Regions from separate parts of the Homo sapiens genome. Here region 2 is linked to region 1. Evidence: fine-mapped expression QTL. A gene starts in region 1. The other region holds a variant in brackets. All regions are shown on one strand. Distances are from middle to middle. Region 1 holds the start of FOXC1 (forkhead box C1). Region 2 overlaps LOC102723944 (a long non-coding RNA gene).

Region 1 (2,897 bases):
CCCCGCGCGCGAGGACGCGGCCGCCGAGGCCAGAAGGCCGGAGCTGAGCTCCGCGGCCGCGCTCTGCGGCGACCCCCGCAGCGACGTCATGATGTTGTCCACGCTGAAGCCCTGGCTATGGTGCGGCGGCGGGGCGGAGGGCGCGGGCGGCGGCGGCGCGGAATCCGCACCGTCCAGGCTGAGCGGCCGCGCCGACGGCAGGCTGCCCGGGGGGCTGCTCCCGCTGGACAGGCTGCTGCTGCTGCTGTCGGGGCTCTCGATCTTGGGCACCGCGGCGGCGCTGCCGCTGCCCAGGGCGGCGGCCGGGGACAGGGGCTGGGGCGGCGAGGGGCACGTACCGTTCTCGGTCTTGATGTCCTGGATGCGCACGGGCGGCGGCTGCGGACCGGGCGCGTTGCCGTCGGCCTGCTCCGGCGGCGCGGGCGGGGGCTGGCGGCCGGGCGGGGGCGGCTCCTTGAGGTGCAGCCTGTCCTTCTCCTCCTTGTCCTTCACCGCGTCCTTCTTCTTGAAGCGCCGCCGCCGCCGCAGGAAGCTGCCGTTCTCGAACATGTTGTAGGAGTCCGGGTCCAGCGTCCAGTAGCTGCCCTTGCCCGGCTTCTTGTCGTCGCGCGGCACCTTGACGAAGCACTCGTTGAGCGAGAGGTTGTGGCGGATGCTGTTCTGCCAGCCCTGCTTGTTGTCCCGGTAGAAGGGGAAGCGGTCCATGATGAACTGGTAGATGCCGTTCAGGGTGATCTTCTTGTCCGGGGCGTTCTGGATGGCCATGGTGATGAGCGCGATGTAGCTATAGGGCGGCTTCACCATGTCCTTGGGCTGCGGCTGCGGCGTGTAGGGCCCGTAGGCGCGGGCCATGCCGCCCGGGTACTGCTCGGCGTGCGCAGGGTGCGAGTACACGCTCATGGGGGCCGGCATGGCGGTGTAGCCGCCCCCGGCCGCCGCGGCCGCCGCGCGGTAGTAGCTCTGCTCGCCGCCGAGGTAGGGCACCACTCCCAGGGAGTTGGGGCTGGACACGGAGTAGCGCGCCTGCATGGCCCCCGCTCGCCGCCGCCCCGCGCCGCCCGCCGCCCCCCACCCTCGCTCGGGCCGGGCCGCGCCGCGCCGGCCGCCGAGTCCGAGTCCGGGCCCGGCCGAGCTGGTGCCGGCCCGCTGCGCTGTGCGTCCGGCTGCGCTGCCGCCTCTCCCGGCGCTCGCTGGGGCTGGCTCCTCCGGCGCCTCGGGCTACCTCGGGGCCCGCGCGGCCGCGAGGCGGGGTCGCTGCGAGGGGAGAAGGCCGGGCCCGGCCGCGGCAGACCGCCTTGCAGGAACTCGCGGCGCAGCTTCCAGGCGCAAACGGGGGAAAGCAGACAAAAAGAAAGAACAAGCAGGCGCCCTTCTCGCCACACTGCCTGCGCCTTCCAGGAGACTCTGCCCTGAGCTGCCGGCGAAGGCGGCCAAATAACCAGGGCGGGGGGGGGGGGGGCCGCGCGCCGGCCGCCTGCCCGGGCCCCGCGTCACCTTTTCTCGGTCTCTCGCGCGCCAGCCGCTTAAGGAAGCATTGGGAAAACTTCTGAACTTTTGAGCATCCGTCACCCAGGCGAGGACTTTTTTACGCAGTTACACTTTTTTCCGGGCAGCGGAGCCCCGCCCCGCCAGCGGCGGCAGCCAATGGGAGGTGAGAACCGCCTCCGAATGAGCCGGAGGCCGAGCCCTGCCGGCCCGCTCCCGGAGGCCGGAGGACCGCGGGGCTGACCACACGCGCGCCGGCCGCCCTGGCCCGGGCCCCGGCCCTGCGCCCGCGCCGGCGCCCGGCCCGCCGTCGGTTCGCCCCCCGCAGTCCACCTGCCTGCCGCCGGCGCCCGGCAGACCTCCCACCCCGGGCCCTCCGGACCCACGCCCGCCGTTCGCGCAGACTTCCTGGGTCCTCCCGGGACCCCGTGCAGACCCTTCCTTCGCCCACGGCTCCCGAGTGGCCCTGGCGTCTCCGCCCCGCCTCGTGCTGGCTCGCTCTCATTCCTTCGCCAGCCCCGCCGACGCCAGCGCTGGGGTTGCCCCAGCCTCTCCTCCCCGCCGCCTCTCCCCTCCCGCAGCCCCTTCCCTCCCTTCTCCAACGCCAGTCTCACTCGGGTCACTGACGTCTCCGGCTTTTCTCCACTTGGAGGTTCTCCTGTCCTGAACTCGGCTACAAAGGACATGATTTTGAGGGCTCGGTCACAGCCAGGCCCTGCTCGCGGTGGGGAAGAAGGTTCGTCGCCCATCTGGCCCCCCTCCATGACCCCTCCCCAGCCGAAATGAAGGCAAGGGGTGCGGGGCCCTGCTGGGAGTTTCCGACGGCCGTTCACCCGCGAAGGATGAGCCCGCCCCGCTGCGGGCCGCCCTGCTTCTCGCCCCCCTCCCCGGGGGGCCGGCCCTTGGCGGCCTGAGGGTGCGGGCGGCGAGGGCTGCCGGAGCCCGGCTGCTGCCCCGCGCTCCCCTGCCCGCCCGCGAGGGTCCCACCGGCTCGCCGCGCCGCCGCCCCCTCTGATCCCGTCAGGCCCGTTTCGGCTCAGATGAGGGGTCAGGCTGCGGGCTCGGTGACATTAGCAGGTGTGATGACAAGAAGCAAATAAATATGTCTAAGAGCTTAACGCTTCCCCAGGCCAGTCTCCATCTCCACATGCGCGGGGCTGCCGGCTCGCAGAGACAACGGGTGTGTCTGGGGGAACGTCCAGGGTCGCACCTAGAGGGCGGTTCAAGGATTCTGGGGGGACACGCACGGAAGGGCCCCCGCTCGTTGTGCACACGCCTGAGATTCGCCGTCGCTGGGTGGTTGGAATGGGACAGGAAGAAGAGAAATGAGGGAAAGAAACGAAGGAGCGGGAAAGAGCCAGGCCTCCCTCCCCCGGCACGGCGATTCTGCATTTTAGCGACTTGAGGAGAGA
Region 2 (2,897 bases), 63 kb after region 1:
GATTTATTTCAGGATATTAAATGGTTTATGGAATCATGGGGAAGGTGAACAAACAGGCTCTAGCCTGAACTTCCCAGGGGACTCCTGGAGTCCCATGTAGCAAGGAAGCTTAAGGCTCTTCTCTGACAACTTGGGAAGCTGTTGCTGCGGCTGCTGCATCAGACACCCCGCCATGGCGCTGAGCAGGGTGGGGTTTAGATTCCCAGTCACGTGTAAAGGCAGTCACACCATCCACGTGCCAGTGGAGTACAACTTGGCAGGCAGTGAGAAGGTGCCAGGATTTTTCGGAGTTAAGTGACTGTGGTAAGTAGGATGGGCTAGAAGAAGAGTGAACGCTGGCTGAGCTTGCTGTGGCTGTGAAAGCGTGCAATCCCGGGAGGGTGGCAGGGGCCAGGGGCCACCACAGGACTCAGCGTGCAGGGTTCACCTACAAAGATCACGTGGACCAAGTGTGCCTGGACCAAGTGTGCCTGAAGCGGTGCTCTGCGTGGGTACAAAATGTGACAGCAGTGTTTGCCAGTCCACTTCACTGGCAAAGGGTGAGTTCTATGCCTACTTATTTCCAAAGACACTGCAAGGTAACTTTGTGTTTCTTCAAAGACTCTAAAGTGGGCCAGGCACAGTGGCTCACTAATCCCAACACTTTGGGAGGCTGAGGTGGGCAGATTACTTGAGCCCAGGAGTTTGAGACCAGCCTGGGCAACAAGCAAGACCCATCTACCCAAAATTTTTTTTTTAATTTTTTAAATCAGGAGTTCGAGAGCAACCTGACCAACATGTGAAACCCCGTCTCTGCTAAAAATACAAAATTAGCTGGGTGTGGTGGTGCACGCCTGTAATCCCAGCTATTCGGGAAGCTGAGGCAGGAGAATTGCTTGAACCTGGGAGGTGGAGGTTGCAGTGAGCCGAGATCACGCCATTGCACTCCAGCCTGGGCAACAAGAGTGAAATTCCATCTCGAAAAAAAAAAAAAAAAAATGAGCCGGGCTTGGTGGTGCACGCCTGTAGTCCTGGCTACTTGGGAGGCTGATGCGGGAGGATCGCTCCCAGTCCAGGAGGTTGAGGCTACCTTGAGCTATGCTTGCACCACTATACTCTAGCCTGGGCCACAGAGTGAGACTTGGTCTCTAAAAAAACAAAAATTAATTAATTAAAAATAAAATA[A/C]GATAAAAAATTAAAAACAAAGACCATAAATGCCATGAGTTATGTTTGTTTTTTCTAAAATTTTATTCCCAGCATAGGGAATAAATGCAGAAGAGGTGCTTCATAAATATGTACTGAATTAACAGATAAAACGAGGGTTCATAATAAGAACCTAGACTCCTTGGAGGGTCCATGAGAAGGTTTTTCTTTGTGTCTGCGTGACAAATTGTCAGTCCCAGGATGGTGCCAGAAGTAAAGTTGGGTCATTGGAGGGTGACTTTGACAACGTCTGACATCTGCAGAGAAGAGGCAGATGTTTCGATCACCTAGCCGACACTGTTCATGACGTCAAAGGCCACGGTGGCTTTACAGCTACAATCTCAACAGCAACAAGAATTTAATGAGGGCCGATTATGTGCAAGATACTATAGTAAGTGCTTAATATTCATTATCTCATGTAATCCTTACAATAGGCCTTGGGGTAGCTTTTATTATTCCTATTTATAAGTGAGTAAACGTTGTCTCAGGTAGGTAAGTGACCAACCCAAGGTCCTTGGATTAGAGCCTAGTTGAATTTTCACTTGAGCCATTTACTCTGGCCACAGAATAGGAACATTGGAAGGAAATCCAGAGGACTTGGTGATATGGTTTGGATCTATGTCCCCACCCAAATCTCATGCTCAATTGTAATCCCCAATATTGGAGGTGGGGCCTGGTGGGTGGTGATTGGATCACAGGGCTGGTTTCTCATGGTTTAGCATTTGGTACTGTATAGTGAGTGAGTTCTCATGAGGTCTGGTTGTTTAACAGTGTATGGCATTTCCCCCTCCTTCTTCCTCCTGCTCTGGCCATGTGAGGTGTCTGCTTGCCCTTTGCCTTCCACCATGTCTGTAGGCTTCCTGAGGACTCTCCAGAAGCCAAGCAGATGCTGGCACCATGCTTCCTGTACAGTCTGCAGAACTGTGAGCCAATTAAATCCCTTTTCTTTATAAATTGCCTAGTCTCAGGTATTTCTTTATAACAGTGTGAGAACAGACTAATATGCTTGGGCTCTGGACCCAGCTCTGCTGCTGCCTGCCCTGGCTTGGTGGACGTCGCCAGCCTCTCTCCTGCCCTGCCCACAAAGAGAAGTGTACTTCCCAGCCACTGCTCGGGGACAGTCACGCGGCCAACTCTGCCCAACAGGCAGTGAGTGGAGATGACTTGTGCTCTGTGTGGGTGAAGCACTTTGATCGCTGGTCGCCTCCTTTTCTCTCACCGTGAGACGGAGGAGACACGTGTTCGCCAGCCTCCCAGATGAGAAGGCCGTGTGCTTTGATGCTGTGGCTGTAAGATGAAAGAGCCTCCATCCTAGGTCCCAAACAGGGCTGTAGAGCAGAATTTTGTGCAACTCATGTTGGATACCATGTGAGCAAGAGCACACGTGTATGTTGAGGCACTGGGATTTTAGGATTGTTTGTCAACATAGGTAACCCAGGTTATTGTGACTAATGCATTTGATCCACTCTTGTTAATCCTCTAAGTATCGGTTTTGCCATCTGTAACTGATGATAATAATATCTATCAGCCAGCTATCTGGGGGCTGTTAAAAGAGATAAGGGAGGAAATGGTTCCCTCCAGGTCTAACATTCTCCAGAACCATCTAGCTTAGTGAAATGGCATGCTCTAAAAATAGAGTTTTCTTCATGACCATTGTATTATGTGCTTAAGGTCTTAAGATCTGACCCTCTGTATTCGCAGATTTGATGACAAAG

What was found. PIP is the estimated chance that this variant, and not a neighbour inherited with it, causes the effect. A credible set is the group of variants that fine-mapping cannot tell apart.
Region 2: its variant is the best candidate, but not a certain one, in a credible set for the expression of FOXC1 in blood mononuclear cells (TOPMed, PIP 0.80).

What each region holds. Positions count from the first base shown.
Region 1 is chr6:1,608,578-1,611,474 of GRCh38, reverse strand. It overlaps FOXC1 (forkhead box C1), which reads right to left and starts at 1,560. Exons shown (of 1, transcript NM_001453.3): 1 at 1-1,560. The coding sequence starts at 1,029. RefSeq lists an enhancer at 703-802 and a silencer at 1,133-1,752.
Region 2 is chr6:1,545,254-1,548,150 of GRCh38, reverse strand. All of the region lies in intron 2 of LOC102723944 (a long non-coding RNA gene), which reads left to right. Among named protein-coding and RNA genes, the nearest start is that of FOXCUT, 59 kb to the left of the region's middle. The variant A/C (reference allele first, on the strand shown) is at 1,165.